2 separate regions of the Homo sapiens genome follow, and region 2 is linked to region 1. Evidence: fine-mapped QTL for protein levels in blood plasma. A gene starts in region 1. The other region holds a variant in brackets. All regions are shown on one strand. Distances are between the middles of the regions. Region 1 holds the start of NPPB (natriuretic peptide B). Region 2 holds the start of NPPA (natriuretic peptide A).

The links. PIP is the posterior inclusion probability: the model's chance that the variant is causal. The UK Biobank Pharma Proteomics Project read protein levels with antibody pairs (Olink). The fine-mapping took linkage between variants from a reference panel, not from the people measured, so its PIPs are less certain.
Region 2: its variant is fine-mapped to the plasma level of the NPPB protein (UK Biobank, PIP above 0.99).

What each region holds. Positions count from the first base shown.
Region 1 is chr1:11,855,137-11,863,463 of GRCh38, forward strand. It overlaps NPPB (natriuretic peptide B), which reads right to left and starts at 3,809. Exons shown (of 3, transcript NM_002521.3): 1 at 3,566-3,809; 2 at 3,078-3,333; 3 at 2,328-2,535. The coding sequence starts at 3,697. The coding sequence ends at 2,519. RefSeq lists a silencer at 4,208-4,374.
Region 2 is chr1:11,844,151-11,852,477 of GRCh38, forward strand. It overlaps NPPA (natriuretic peptide A), which reads right to left and starts at 3,633. Exons shown (of 3, transcript NM_006172.4): 1 at 3,412-3,633; 2 at 2,963-3,289; 3 at 1,559-1,864. The coding sequence starts at 3,534. The coding sequence ends at 1,859. It also overlaps NPPA-AS1. RefSeq lists an enhancer at 2,669-4,459. The variant C/G (reference allele first, on the strand shown) is at 3,939.

The DNA.
Region 1 (8,327 bases):
ACGGGTCCTCGAATCTTGGCTCTGCCACTTGCTAACTACATGACATTGACAAGTTATATATCTCTGTGCCTTGGTTTCCCCATCTGTAAAAAGAGGGATGTAAGAGTTTTAACTCCAGGCCAGGAGCAGTGGCTCAAGCCTGTAATCCCAGCACTTTGGGAGGCCGAGGCGGGTGGATCACTTGAGGCCAGGAGTTCGAGACCAGCCTGGCCAACATGATGAAACCCCATCTCTACAAAAAATACAAAAATTAGCTGAGGGTGGTGGTGCATGTCTGTACTCCCAGCTACTCAGGAGGTTGAGGCGAGAGAATCGCTTGAACCCGGGAGTCAGAGGTTGCAGTGAGCCGAGATTGCACCGCTGCACTTCAACCTGGATGACAGAGTGAGACCTGTCTCAAAAAAAAAAAAAAAAAGAAATTTAACTCCTTCATTGTTGTGAGGTCTATATGACTGTGCCTGGTACATGAATGAGGCCTTTATGAATATTAACTATTCTAATTACTCATTGCTCTCCCCGGTTTGGAAGCATTAGACATGACTCACAGTTGGTGGAAAAATAAGCTGCCCCTAAAACCTCTTTTTTATTTCTTTTATTCTCTTTTTTTGTTCGTTTGTTTTTTGAGATGGGGTCTCCCTCTGTCACCCAAGCTGGAGTACAGTGGCACAATCACAGCTCACTGCAGCCTCCCCGCTTCCAGGCTTAAGCGATCCTCCCACCTCAGCCTCCTGAGTAGCTGGGACCACAGGCATGCACCACTACACCCAGATAATTTTTTTCATTTTCATTTCTTGAAGATATGGGGGTCCCATTATGTTGCCCAGGTTGGTCTTGAACTCCTGGGCTCAAGCCGTCCTTCTGCCTCGGCCTTTCAAAGTGCTGGGATTACAGTGTGAGCCACTGTCCCTGGCCTAAAACCTCGTTTTTGAACAATTTTTTTTTTTTGAGATTATGGAGTTTCACTCTTGTTACCCAGGCTGGAATGCAGTGGTGCAATCTTAGCTCACTGCAACCTCCACCTCTCAGATTCAAGCGATTCCCCTGCCTCAGCCTCCTGAATAGCTGGAATTACAGGCACACACCACCATGCCCGGCTAATTTTTGTATTTTTAGTAGAAAGGGGATTTCACCATGTTGGCCAGGCTGGTCTCGAACTCCTGACCTCAGGTGATCCTCTGGCCTCGGCCTTCCAAAGTGCTGGGATTACAGGTGTGAGCCACCGCACCCAGTCTAAACAATCTTAATTGATGTCATTAGATATCCATAAATCCTCAGATGCACACTGGGTGAAAATGATAAATAACACAAAGTTCCACCCTCTAGGTCACTCTCATTCAAAGAAACATCTGATGAGAACATCAGAAAAGACTTGAGAGTGAAGTTCAAGGGCAGGAGTGTGGGGCTCAAGAGTCAGAGAGCACAGGCTCAAGAGTCACCTGGATCTCCGCTCAGTTCCCACACCAGCGCTTAGTCGCTGTGTGCTCTTGGATAGGACGCTTGGTTTTCCAGGGTCTCAGTTTTCCCGGGTCTCAGTTTTCCCATTTGGAAAATGGACATAATAATAGTGGACCTCATGGTGCCTTACCCCTCAGCTGAGCTGGAATTATAAATGGCATTGTGAGAAAGCGAATGACATGAGGCCCTTCCCAGGAATCTGAAAGGAGAGGAACTCAGCACTGCGGAGGCCTGGATTGCAGGGTGTGTGGGAAGGGGACCCATAGGAGAGACAGCCTCCCCACTGGTTAAGGCAAAGAGAAGAGATGATGCAGCCCCAGGGGAGGGGCACCCTGGAAAGCTGGGCTGATTGCCAGACCCCTCTCACTTTGTGGGTTGGAGTTTTGAAGGCTCCTTTGCAGGATGACCCCAGGAATTGGAGTTTCAAAGCTGATATTTGGGGCAGGATGGAGGGCTCACCCCGGTATGGGAATGTAGATGAGCCACACCCACACACACTGCCCCCAGTCGTTGACATTTTAGCTGAGACCTGAAAGCAATAATCCCCAGGGAGAGTGCTTTAATGGTGGAATTCCAGGCAGAGCAAGGACGAGTGGAGAAAACGGCTGGATACGTGCCCTCAGGTTGCACACGTATCCTGCCCTGCTTTGAAAAGCAGTTTCTCCCAAGTGCCTCAAGTGCTTGAGATATTCAATAACATTTCAGAGCATTAAAAACTCTGAAAGAAAAGAAAGCCTGCTACCTCTGAGGCCACATCCTCATCCCACCATGAAGATGCCTTGAGATCACAGGGCTTTGTGGTTTTAGTTGGGTTGGTTTCTTTGAAATGAGGGATTATTTTTAATGCGCCAAGACAAATCAGTTTCAAAAGATAAAGCTTATAATGTTGACTTTATTTCACCGTGGAAATTTTGTGCTCAAAGGTAAGAAACCATCTTATATAAAACAATCAAATAAATACATAAATACATTAAAAAAATGAGTCACTTCAAAGGCGGCCACAGGGTTGAGGAAAAAGCCCCTTGTGGAATCAGAAGCAGGTGTCTGCAGCCAGGACTTCCTCTTAATGCCGCCTCAGCACTGTCAGGGAAAGAGAGAGGGTGATGATGGTTAGGGTGGGAGATGGAGGCAGGGGCTGAGCTTACCTCATCGTGTGCCACCCACCACCCTGTTAGTCATCAGACGTTTGAGGCTTAATGCAACTCTCTGAGCCTCAGTTTCCTCATCTGTAAATTGGGGATTATCATTGCTCTGGTGATCCTGCTCTCTGCCTTTGAGACTATAGACAGTTTAGAGGAAACCAGGAGGAAATGTTTGGTTCTCTTTCTGCACCACTGGGGGGCTGCCAAATGATAAACAGACCCCCAAAGGAGATTCTGCCCCTTTGATAAGAAGTAGGAGGTGGGGAGAAGGTATTGTGGGCATGGTAATGAAATAAGCCCACATTTACTAATTCCACAAAGGCACCCCTTGGCCCTGAAGGCTGTTAACAAGAGGAAGCGATGTCCAGGTGACCTTTTCTCAAAGAGTGTGGTTCCCAGAGACAACAAACCCCAAAGTGACTCTAACAGTGTCACACACTGGAATGGGGGAAGGCGGCCGGGGTGGCAGGGGGTGCTTACCTTTGCAGCCCAGGCCACTGGAGGAGCTGATCCGGTCCATCTTCCTCCCAAAGCAGCCAGACCCTTGCACCATCTTGGGGCTTCGTGGTGCCCGCAGGGTGTAGAGGACCATTTTGCGGTGCCCACGGATGCCCTCGGTGGCTACCTCCCGGGACTTCCAGACACCTGTGGGACGGGGGCTCTCCTGGAGGGGCTCCAGGGATGTCTGCTCCACCTGCAGCTCCGACAGTTTGCCCTGCAAATGGTTGCGCTGCTCCTGCAATGAATGGGGGCGTCCAAGCCTCAGGGACCCACCCCTGGGCTCACCAGCCCTTCATGGCACCCAAGTGAACCGACTGCCTTGGGTACAGGGTCAGGGCACCCAGTCTCTCCATTTTCTGATTCCTTTATCACTAATTCCAAAGGAAAGATGAGGGCCTCTTGGGACAGCAGGTGAGGACCCTTTCATTGCTGCTGTCCAATCCCCCTGAGCTGCCCTCCGCTCTCACCTGTAACCCGGACGTTTCCAAGTCCGAGGCTGAACCGGGGCTGCCCAGCGGGTGGGAACGACCTCCCAGGAAAGCCAGATGCAAGAAGAGCAGGAGCAGGAGCGCCCGGGAAGGTGCTGTCTGGGGATCCATGTCTCTGGAGGGACTGCGGAGGCTGCTGCTGCTGCTTCTGCTGCTGCTGCTGCTGCTGCGATGCGTCCGGGTTTGCTTCCCACCTGCCCTCAGCCTGCGGGGTGCTCCTCCTGGCTCCTCGGGACACCGTGGCCTTTTATCCTGGAGCTGAGTGTCGGGCCTGCCCTGCCATGCAGGGTTATCTCTGATTTATCAGCCACATTCCGGGCCTCTGAGATCAGGGCCCGGGAATGAGCCCCTCCGCGCCTGCGACGTGGGAGGTGGAGACCGGGCAGAGCCGACCTTGTATAGAAATGGGCCGGGTCGGGCCGGGGGGCAGGAACGCGCTGGAGACACAGACAAGTCCCCGTCTCCCGCTTCTTCCTTTCCTGCAAATGTCCAGGTGTCCTAGGTTGGCGCTTTCTTCCTGCCTCCCCACCCCACCGTTGCTGGAAAAGGCAGGGAGGACCCCGGCTTTCCGAGGACCGACGTGAGCGCGGGGAGCACGGGGTGACTCACAGCGAAAACAGCCCCGGCCAAGACCCCGCCACCCGCGGCGCCTCTCCCCTCCCCGCGCGAGTTCCCTGGCCCGCACGTAGCGCAGCACCTGCTCGCCGCTGTGCACCCTGCCTGCCTGCGGGTCCTCGGGGGCGCCCTGGCCGCTGTCCGTGGTGCTGATCACCCCGAGGGAACTTGGAGCAAACTCTCAAGAGCTGCTCTCTTCAACGGGATTTTCAGGCCAGAAAGACCTGCGTGGAGCAAGGACAAGAGACCTCCGAGACCTTTCCCTATGCTCTCACAATCCGCCATCTTATAGTCCTTACAGCAACGGGATGCTGATTCCCCAGTGGCAATTCATTAAAAGCCTGGGTATGACCAGGAACTTCTGGAATGCTGACCCTTCTTTCACTCCTTAAAGGGAAGAGCAGATTTCGCTGGAATTTTGAGAGATAGGGTCCAGTGATGACGAAGTCACCCAAGAATGCCTTATATGTGTGTCCTCCACGTGTCAACACCTCCTCTCCCCCACCAAGCCAACACAGGATGGAAAACAAAAGGATAGGCTGGGCATGGTGGTTCACGCCTGTAATCCCAGCACTTTGAGAGGCCGAGGCGGTCGGATCACGAGGTCAGGAGATCGAGACCACGGTGAAACCCCGTCTCTACTAAAATTACCAAAAATTAGCTGGGCATGGTGGCAGGCGCCTGTAGTCCCAGCTACTCGGGAGGCTGAGGAAGGAGAATCACTTGAACCCAGGAGGTGGAGGTTGCAGTGAGCTGAGATCACGCCACTGCACTCCAGCCTGGTTGACAGAGAGCGAAAAAAGAAAGAAAGAAAGAAGGAAAGAAAGAAAGAAAGAAAGAAAGAAAACAAAAGGATGGCTGGAATGATGGTTATCTATTTGCTGGGATACCAGAGATATGGGGATTTCCCCTCTCCCAGTGCCTCCTTCATCTGACCACCCATGATCTAATTATCATTAGCAGGTGGCCTGGTGATTAGAAGTGAGACTTTGGAGAGAAATGCCCCTGAGAAGAGTCATAGCAGCTTAAATACCCCCCTAAAGCATATATGACTGATGTCACTCCCCTTCCAGAGAATTGGTGTCAACAAGCAGCAGGCTGGAGGAGTGGAGCTGTCTATGAGGGGAGAAGAGTTACAGCAGAGAAGGGCAGCAATAAGAAACTGGGACCTCTAAGCAGATCTTGCCTAAAAAATAGCATCTGCCCCTGAGGTGAGAAAAGCACGGTTATTATTCCTCACTTCAGAGGAGGAAATGGTGTTCATGAATTAATCTACTTTCCAAAAGTCACACAATTGACACATGATAAATCCTGGATTCTAACCAGTCTGATTAGTCTAGCCAGCAGTCTGATTCCAGACCTGAAGCTCATAATCACTGCCAGGGTGATCACAAGGTGTTTCTACAAAAAGCAAGCTTAGGTGAATCCCGTGTCATCTATGAAGGCTCTGGGAGCTGTGCTGTGGGGGATGTGCAATTCTAGTGGTGACTGTGTGTGCAGGAGAAAGAATGGGAAGTGGCTCAGATGAGCATTTTGCAGATGAAATATAAATGGAGGTGGGTGGGTAAGGGCTGTGTAAAGACACCAGTGCTGGAAATGTTCTGGGGGGCTGGGGTAGTTTTGTGTGTGTGTGTGTGTGTGTGTGTGTGTGTGTGCGTGCACATGAGCATGCCACAGTAAGAGTATCAAAAGGCTAAGAGGAAGCTAAAGAGGTAAGAAAATTCAGCCAAGTGCAGAGGGGAGTCAGTGGGCGAGAGGCTGCTGAGGGTGCAGAAAGCCCCTCATGCTGAGTACCATGAGATAAAGGGTTCAGAGCAAGGCAGGATTCATCAACCAGCACCATCAAAAACTGACTCTGCATCTCGCCAGAGCCTCACTTTGCTCTTCGGCAAAATGGACAGTCCTTGCAAGGACTAAAAGGAAAAAAATAATATCTGCAAAAGCCCGTGGCACTGTATAAAGGGCCAAATAATTAGTAGTACATGAGAGTTGGTCTTTACACTGAAGGAGATTGTGATCTCACTGGGGAGACAAAGTGACCCCAAGTGAGACAATTAAGTGTCTAAGTGTCATACACTCTGACAGAGTTTCTATCTGTCCCCAGTGGAGGGGACTGTGGAAGAAGACTTGAGGAAGACACAGAACTAGACACATCCTCCAAGGCCTGCTGTCCAGGGAGGAGGATATGTTGTCAACTAACTCTCACACCAGATCAGCCCCATCAACATTTATCGAGGGCCTGTCATATGCTATGTGCTTTCCAAGTCTATTTAATGAAGCTAATCATAACACCTCTGTTGGAGCATTAATGTACAAGGATTAAATTTGATGATGTCTGTGGTAAGCTGAATAATAGTCCCCAAAAGATGTCCATATTCTAATCCCCAGAATCTGCGAATATACTACTTTACATGGTAAAAAGGACTTTGCAGGTGTGGTTAAGTTAAGGACCTCAAGGTGGAGAGATTCTCCTGGATTATTCAGGAAGGCTCAATGTCATCACAAGGGTCCTTATAAGAGGGAAGCCAGAGGATCAAGGTCAGAGGGACAAAATGTAAGGATGGGAACAGGTCAGAGAGGAGAGAAGAGACTACACTGCTGGCTTTGAAGATAGAGGAAGGGGCCATGAGCCAAGGAATGTAATCAGCCTCTAGAAGTTGGAAAGGGCAAAGAAATGGATTTTTCCCTAGAGCTTCCAGAAGGAATATGGGCCTGCCAATACCTTAGTTTTAGCCCAGTGAAACAGATTTCAGACTTCTGATGTCTGGAACTGTAAGAAAATAAAATCATGTTCTTTTAAGCCAACAAGCTTGTGAGACTTTGTTTCAGCAGCAATGGGAAATTAATAGAGTATATGTCAAATGCCAAGCATAGTGTCTCTCCCATAGTAAGCCCTCAGCAAATGTTGTTATGGTAGAAGTATTGGTTCCCCACCACCATCCAACTCTAAGTGCTTAATCTGGCCACACAGAAAGAAATAAGACCCTTAAGTCATTCAACAAACTTTCACCGAGACCCTGGGGTCACAGTAGCCCAGACCCAAGACTGAAATCACAGTCTGGGCTCAATTTCACATCAACTTCTTGCTACCTTTGTGTGTTGGGCAAGTTGCTTCCTCTCTCTCCTTGTTTTCTCATGGCTACCTCATAGGGTTGTTGTGAGCATAAAATGAGACTGTGCAGGTTAAAATCTAATATTTCTGCTGGAAGGTGGGGATACATAACGGACAAGAAAGTCCCTGCCATTGAGAAGCTTACAGTGCAGGGGGAAAGGTGGGCACAATCACAGGCTCCCCAGGCTGCCACAGTGAGTGACAGATACAGTGGCAGTGAGTCCTGGATGCTCTGTGAGCACAGCAGGAGTGCGCAGTCGAGAAGGGAGTTTGTTGGAGAAGGTGGGGCTGGGCTAAGGCTTTGAAGGATAAGAATGAGTTAGCCACAAGAAGGAAGATGGAAGATGGGGAGGGCACTCTGGGCAGAGCAGATGCACAAGCAGAGGCTAGAAGGGCTGGTTAATGGATCAGCTACCACCCCTATGCTCTCTGCAGAAGGAAGAAGCTGTGCAGAATACAAGGTTTGACTAGTCAGAGAGTAGGACTCCAGCTGCAAGATTTTTCTGTAGCTTCCCTCTGGCCTCAATCTCCAGTCTAGTCCTGGGCAGCCAAAGTGGATGGTATGAGAGCACTGGGCACCTGGGGGAAGCAAAGGAGGAAACAGAGGAGCACTGACCCAGGAGGCAGGAGGCAGGCTCGTCTCTGCCCGTGGCTGACTCACGGTGTGGCTCTGTTCCAGGGATTCTTTTTTTTTTTTTTTAATTTTTTTGAGATGCAGTCTTCCTCTTTCACCCAGGCTGGAATGCAGTGGTGCGATCTCAGCTCACTGCAACCTCCGCCTCCTGGGTTCAAGTGATTCTCCTGTCTCAGCCTCCTGAGTAGCTGGGACTAGAGGCACGTGCCACCACACCCAACTAATTTTTTATTTTTAGTAGAGATGGGGTTTCACCATGTTGGTCAGGCTGGTCTCGAACTCCTGACCTCAGGTGATCCGCCTGCCTCTGCCCCCCAAATTGCTGGGATTACAGATGTGAGTCACCGTGCCCGGCCTGTTCCGAAGATTCTGCTCGGTTT
Region 2 (8,327 bases), 11 kb before region 1:
TACCTGTGTTACGGTGACACCTTGAGAATGGGCTACTTCCCCTCCTAGCAACCCGCAACACCATCCCAGACCTCAGGAGCCAGGTTTGGGCCAGTGCTGTCTCCTGTCGCTCTTACTTTCATCCTTGTCATTCTCTACCCCCTGGTTTTCCTGGTATTTAAAGTCCAGGTAGAGAAGATTTTGACTGGAGGTGGTTAGGTGAGGCTCTCCCCCCACCTCAACCCCCTGCCATTAGTTCACTGGGAGCCTCCCCCTTTCCTCCGCAAGGAGCAAGTTACTACTTCATTTCCTCTTTTCCCAATTTCTGGACAAGACCAAGGCAATTTGACCAACATTTATGGGGCATCAACTCTGAGAGTGCTGAAGGGGCATTTGCCCTCAAAGAGCTTGCAGTCTAGGGACGTAGACACAAGCAATTGCACATAGGCAACTCGTGTTGTGTGCTATTATAACAGTTACATGTGCAACACTGCCTACGAAGGGACTCATTGTTACTAGGCATGAGGTACCAGGAAAGAAGTAGTGTTCATATGAGCCTTAAGAAATCAGTACAATGTCCTCGGGAGGACCAGAGGAAGGACACCCCAGGTGGAAGGAACAGCAGAAATAAAGGCACAGTGGCATGTGTGGGTGTGGGGTGTTGGAGTGTCATAGAATCTGATGAGGTTGGGATCCATGGGGGTAACAGGTGGGAAAACAGTTTACTCTGTTTAAGGTGAACTTATTGCCTGGTGTTTTGTGCTCAGAGCAAATACCCTCTTCAGGAGCAGATACAAAAAGCCGGCATCTTCTCCAGCAGCTCTTAGTAAAATACAAGCCCAGGCCCTTCAGACCCGGATTAGGCAAAGACTATGTCTGTTTTCCAAATACTTGTTAGTACACAAAAGGCACATGAACTTGTAGTTTGTCTGCATGGCAAACCTTTCTTCACTTTGCTCAGTTTTTATTTTTTTGAGACAAGTCTCATTCTGTCACCCAGGCTGGAATGCAGTGGCACAATACCAGCTCACTGCAGCCTCCACCTCCCAGGCTCAAGCCATCCTCCCACTTCGGCCTCCTGAATAGCTGGAACTACAGGTGCACATCATCATGCCTGGCTAATTTTTAAATTTTTTGTAGAGATGGGGTCTCACTCTATTGCTCAGGCTGGTCTTGAACTCCTGGGCTCAAGTGATTTGCCCACCTTGGCCTCCCAAAATGCTGGGATTACAGGAGTGAGCCACCACACCCGGCCTGCTCAGCTTTTAAATTCAACACTCTGCCTACTCTTTTCAAAACTAAAAGTACCATTACCTTAGCTGTAGAACCTAACTCTCTCGAAATGTACCAGAGAAAATCTAATTAATACTCTCATTTTCTGAATGTTCCCCCCTAAAAACAACAAAAACCCCACTAGGAGTGGAATTTGAGGCCTCCCCAACCACCTACCAAAAAAGGAGGGTGAAATGAAAGGAAGAAGAAAAACTCAGCATTCTTTCCTCTGACAAAGAGTAAAACGACAAGGAATATCGGCCTGAATTCTCTTCCCAAGAAGAAAGAAAGCACACCAACGCAGGCATTTGTCTTCTGTCCATGGTGCTGAAGTTTATTCACTTTCAAACCACTTTCAGTAACAGGTGAGGTTCTACCTTAAAATTTAATGCATGGGGTGGGAGAGGCGAGGAAGTCACCATCAAACCACTTTATCTACAGTTAGCATAAGATGTGAGAAGTGTTGACAGGAAGCTGCAGCTTAGATGGGATGATCACAACTCCATGGCAACAAGATGACACAAATGCAGCAGAGACCCCAGGGGACAGGAGCCTCTTGCAGTCTGTCCCTAGGCCCAGCCCTGCTTGTCCTCCCTGGCTGTTATCTTCAGTACTGCAAAGAGAACACAGACATATCTGGCTTGGTGACCTGGCTGTCCTGGAAAAGTCAGCTTCATGTATGAGTGTGCCCATCCTCTGAACTTGATTACTGACCACCTGCTTCCCACCGGCCCCCACCCCAGCCTGATGACCCTCTGAGCTTCATGAATTGATAAGCAAGTTACTCATCAGAGTAAATTTCACTTAAGCCCTTCAGGATCTTGCAATTCTGGGGAGGAATATGAACTGCTAATCAGCCATGCAAAGATAACTTGGCTCTATGAATATTTTAATTTCCCAGTGCTAGTGGCAGTTGCTTTTTTTTTTTTTTTTTTTGAGACGGAGTCTTGCTCTGTCGCCCAGGCTGGAGTGCAGTGGTGCCATCTCTGCTCACTGCAAGCTCCGCCTCCCGGGTTCACGCCATTCTCCTGCCTCAGCCTCCGGAGTAGCTAGGACTTACAGGCGCCTGCCACCACGCCTGGCTAATTTTTTGTATTTTTAGTAGAGACGGGGTTTCACCGTGTTAGCCAGGATGGTCTCCATCTCCTGACCTCGTGATCCACCCGCCTTGGCCTCCCAAAGCGCTGGGATTACAGGCGTGAGCCACCGTGCCTGGCCTTTTTTTTTTTTTTTTGAGACAGTCTCGCTCTATCACCTAGGCTGGACTGCAGTGGCGTGATCTCTGCTCACTGCAACCTCTGCCTCCTGGGTTCAAGTGATTCTCCTGCCTCAGCCTCCCAAGTAGCTGAGAGTACAGGTGCCCGCCACCACACCCAGCTAATTTTTGTATTTTTAGTAGAGCTGGGGTTTCACCATGTTGGCCAGGATAGTCTTGATCTCTTGACCTCATGATCCGCCTGCCTCGGCCTCCCAAAGTGCTGGGATTACAGGCGTGAGCCACTGTGCCCAGCCCCCCCCCCTTTTTTTTTTAAGCATTTTCTCAGCAGACTAGCTAAGGACAATAGATGGCATGTCCTGACACCCATGGGGCACTCTGGGTGTTGGGGCAGAAACTTGAGAGGGAATGAGCTTCTGCATTGGTCCCTTTCCTGCTGAAGGTGTCTCCCAGTAGTGTCCATCCCATCCCATTTCCATCCCCAGTTCCTCTTACCCGGAAGCTGTTACAGCCCAGTCCGCTCTGGGCTCCAATCCTGTCCATCCTGCCCCCGAAGCAGCTGGATCTCCGCAGGCTCCGAGGGGCAGTGAGCAGCGCCCTCAGCTTGCTTTTTAGGAGGGCAGATCGATCAGAGGAGTCCCAGGGGCCCCGCCCGAGGGCACCTCCATCTCTCTGGGCTGGGCTGACTTCCCCGGTCCAGGGAGGCACCTCAGGGAGGGGGCTGAGAGCAGCCCCCGCTTCTTCATTCGGCTCACTGAGCACTTGTGGGGGCACGACCTCATCTTCTAAAGGCATCTTTTCTTCCAAATGGTCCAGCAAATTCTTTAGAAAAGGAAAATACAGGGAAAGGGATAAACCTCACTGACTTGGAGGAAATCAAGAGGAGTGAGCACAGCATCAGAAAGCCCCCTGGCCCCAGACTGCACCCGCTTTCCTGGCCCTACCTTGAAATCCATCAGGTCTGCGTTGGACACGGCATTGTACATGGGATTAGCTCTGGTCTGACCTAGGAGCTGGAATGCCAGTAAAAGGAGGAAGCTCACGGTGGTGGTGGAGAAGGAGCTCATGCTGGCGTCGTCAAGGAGCAATCCACTGCTTGCTGCTCTGTCTCTCCCCTCTGGTTCCTCTCTGGTTCCCCTCTCTTGGCCTACGTCTGTCCCTGTCTCCCAGCTGCCCAGTGCCGCCTCTTTTTATAGCCCCCCAGCTCTCCAAGCACGCAGGAGAGACAGAACCCTCCCCATTCTGTCACTTGCAGTGATAAAGCTGCCAAGTGAGAAGCCAGCAGGAGATGCCCTTTTAAAGTTATCATCCCGCAGGGCTTGTCACAGCCCCTCTCTGCCTTGGGCAGCCCCAACAGCCCCCCAGACCCTCAGCTGCAAGAGCCGCATTCTTACTGATTTGACTCAAGAGGCTCCCACTTCAAAGGTGTGAGAAGAGTAAAAAAGAGTCCTTGGTTATCTCACCGCCGTGC[C/G]TCAGGATTCTTTCTCCTCGACGCTGGTACCCGTGCGGGGAAACAGAGGGTGACGCTTGGCTGGTGCCCAGCTCCCCTGGTTTGTTTGTGGCTCAGCTGTCAGGGCCTCCAAATAAGGGTGGAGAGGAGGAAATGGCAGGCAGCCAGCAGCCCGAGACAAATGGATCCAGATGCTCAAGCTGGCCTCACACCTGCCTCATCCGCCACGTGGGCAGACCTCTGGCCTCAGACAGGGCTGCCTTCACCCCTGGCAGTCCCTCTCCATGGTCAGGCGAAAGGAAGTTATTTTTTAGTATATAAAGTCAGCTGAGAACCAAATGTGATGAAGCTCCCAGGAATCCAACCCCCAAATAGAAATAGCAAGAAAAGGCGGGGGAGCACAAGCATCCTCTCTCCAAAGCTCCTCCTCTTCCATGTCCCCCGCGACCCTCCTCCAGCATGCTGCGGGGACAGGCTTAGAGGACGCAGCCAATTTCATTTCTTCCGTTGCTGTTTATAGATGCTCAGACTCTTCGTGTCTGAAGTTTGTTAACATCCCCCTGCCCTTCCTGGGCTTGTGCCCGTGGCAACTTGACCGATGGAGGAAGGGAGGTGGGGGTGAAGGAGGTATAGTCAGTTTCCCTCAATGCCTTCTACATCCTTCCCTGAGGACGTGGCAAGTGGCAAGTGACCGAGCCACCAAGGTCACAATTTCCCTGGCCCCCAAAAGGGAAATAACAGGCAGCAAGTCTGTCTATGTTTAATGAATGGCCTGTTTGCTAAGCACTGAACTCAGTGTTAGCCATTACCATTCAATGCAACGTATACTGGGGGAAAACTCTAAATTTGAAGGGCTGAGAGACCAGTACTGTAGCCCAAAACAAACCAGTTGCATACCTCTTCGCAGCCTTACTTTCCTTGTGTGTAAAATGAGAAAGAATGTTAAAAACCGGCCGGGTGCAGTGGCTCACACGTATAATCCCAGCACTTTGGGAGGCTAAGGTGGGTGGATCACCTGAGGCCAGGAGTTTGAGACCAGCCCTACCAACATGGCAAAACTCTGTCTCTACTAAAAATATAAAAATTAGCTGGGTGTGGTGGCATGTGCCTGTAATCCCCGCTACTAGGGAGGCTGAGGTAAAAGAATTGCTTGACCTTGGGAGGCGGAGGTTGTAGTGAACCAAGATCGCACCACTGCACTCTAGCCTGGGCAACAGAGTGGGACTCGGTCTCAAAAAATAAATAAATAAATGAATGAATAAAGTAGAAATCTTCCCTGCCTACCTTGCAGGATTGTTGTGGAGCCCAAGTGAGCTGAGAACGTGTCAACACATAACAAGTGTGCAGTGCTGAGTCCCTGCAAGATGGCCATCATAGTTGTCTTTATTGGTTGCTTGTAGCATGCCTAGCACTGTGCTGAGAACTTTATGGAAATGATTTTATTTTGATCACCATCCCCAGGTGGTAGATAGCATTGTCCTTGCTTACAAGGGAACAGAACTGAGCCCGAGAGGCTATGCCACTTGCCCAAGGCCACTAGGTGCCTAAGTGGCGGAACCAGGACTGGATCCCCAGGTCTGACGCTGATGTCTGTATCCTAGCCTATTTCACGTAGAGAGCTGCCACCTTACCTCTTAGCTGCATTCCCCAATTAAACCCCCATTCCCCATCTTTCAGATGCCCCAAGGGAGCTCCTTCACCTTCCCCATGCCCCTGGGGCTGTAGCTTTTTTGTGCACTTACCAAGTCTGTGTGTGTTGGCTGCTCTCCTGATCTATTTCTACACCGAATGTGTTTTAATCCACTCCTTAGAAGCTCAGAAAATGTGTGTTGAGTGACCAGCTCTGTCCTGGCTGGCCAGATCTGTCCCCAGGTGTGCTGACCTCATGACTGACCAGGTGAACAGGACGTTGTGCAGCCATAAGGTTGGAAATCAGGGCAGCAAGTGACTAGAGGTCACAAGAGGTATCCAGGGTGATATTATTCTAAGATAAGATAAAAGGGACCCTCTTTGGCAAGCCTTGGGGTTTGTCTGTAGGTGGGGATCTAATATTTCATGGGGTGGTTAGAAGCAGCCTGTAGGAGTGAGAGAGAAGAAAAGTAACAGGCACAGAAAGCCAGGCCCACCTCCATCCCCACCTCTTCCACGGCTGAAAAATCAAAAGCCTTTTATTTCCTTATCACTGGAAAGAAGTCATCTTAGTCATACAACGGGTGGAGCACTGCAAACGGGTGGGAGAATCCAGAATCCGGGTGTTGCCAGATTCCAGCCCAGAGTTTGGCTTCACGATTCTCTGGGGGTATGCCTTGGGCTGCTGCAGGGAGCCCCAGAGTGTGCAGTGTCACCCGCGTGCAGAGCTGGCACGAAATCCCCAACACATTCGTGGCATGATTCTGCGGGACCCAGATGGTCTAAAGCAGAAGCCCCAGTTGGGAAAAATTGGTTCATACTTAGGGATGATCGTTGCTGACTTTGAAAATGATGTTTTGTTTCTTTGGTTTAATATGGAGGTCACTAAGGGCTGAAGACTGGGGACAGTTTCCCTAGAAAACAAAGCCCAAGGCAAAAGGTCACTCGCTAAAGTTTTGTGGGGGTTCCTATTCAAAGGAAGCAAGAGTGAGGCGGAGTGAGAGGCTGTTTTAGTTAACTACTGCCGGGTAACAAGTCACCCCAGACTGGGCGTGGTGACTCACGCCTGTCATTCCAACACTTTGGGAGGATCATTTGAACCCAGGAGTTCAAGACCACCCTGGGCAACATGGCAAAAACCCATTTGTACTAAAAATACAAAAAATTAGCTGGGTGCAGTGGTGCGTGCCTGTCATCCCAGCTACCCTGGACACTGAGGTGGGAGAATCACCACAGCCCAAGAAGTTGAGGCTGCCGTGAGCCATGACCAAGCCACTGCACTCCAGCCTGGGTGACAGAGTGAGAACCTGTCTCAAAAAGAACAAAAGCCAGGCATGGTGGCTCACGCCTGTAATACTAGCCCTTTGGGAGGCTGAGGCAGGAAGATCTCTTGAGCTCAGGAGTTCCAGACAAGACTGAGCAACATAAGGAACCCTGTTTTTAATAAATAAACAAACAAAAAACAAAACAAAAACCAAGTCACCCCAAACCTTAGCAACTTCACACAATGCACATCTATTATCTCATCACCTCTGTGCTCTGTGGATCAGGGATCTGGCCCTGCTTGGCCTGGGGCCCCTGGGCAATGAAGGCGTTGGCTGCGGCTGCAGTCATCTCAAGGCTTGGCTGGGGGAGGATAGGCTTTCAGGCTCACTCCTGCAGCTGTTGGCAGAAGCCACAGGTTCTCGCTGGCTGGTGGCTGGTGGAAACATCAGTTTCTTGCCACGTGGGTCTCTCCATGGAGACGCAACTGTCTTCTATTAGGTCAGGCGAGAAAGAGAAGTTACGGAAGAAGCCACAGTCTCTTTGTTACCTAATCTCAGAAGTGACATCCCATTCTTCATGTTGTACTGTTCTGTGTCCCTTAGAAGTGAGTCTCTGGGTCTCACTCACACTCTAAGGGAGGGGGTTACAGAGGGTATGAAGACCAGGAGGTTGGGGATCTCTGGGGGCCTTCTGAAAGCACTGCCCACACAAATAGAGAAGGAAGGAAAGCAAATGTAAGGTGACATTGGCTGAGTGCAGTGGCTCATGCCTGTAATCCCAGCACTTTGGGAGGCTGAGGTGGGTGGATCACTTGAGGTCAGGAGCTCGAGACCAGCCTGACCAACATGGTGAAACCCCGTCTCTACTAAAAATACAAAAATTAGCCAGGCATGGTGGTGTGCACCTGTAGTCCCAGCTACTCGGGAGGCTGAGGCAGGAGAATCATGAAGGGCAGGGCTCTGCAGGAAGGTTGACTTATTTGGGAGTGTCTTAGTTTAAGTTCTCTTGAACCGGAGACAGATATTCCAGTATTAGTGGCTGATCTTGGAGACAAACCCAGGAAATGTCAGTGGAGAGTGGGGAAGTGATACAGAAAAAGTAGAAGTCAGTGACCACCTCTGGCAGTAGGTGCTTAATCCTCCTCCCACAGAGAACTCCAAACAGGTTCTCTGTTTGGAGAACAGAGACACATGCCACCTATGACTCAAGGGAGCTGGGTGTTTGTTTTATTTTATTTTATTTTATTTTATTTTTGAAACAGAGTCTTGCTCTGTCACCCAGGCTGGAGTGAAGTGGTAATTTCAGCCTTGACTTCCCGGCTCAGTGATCCTCCCATTTCAGCCTCCCGAGTAGCTGGACTACAGATGTTCACCACCATACCCGGCTAATTTTTTTTCTTTTATTTTTAGTAGAGACGAGGTCTCTCTTTGTTGCCCAGGCCGGTCTCGAACATCTGAACTCAATTTATCCTCCCACCTCAGCCTCCCAAAGTGCTGGGATTACAAGTGTAAGCTG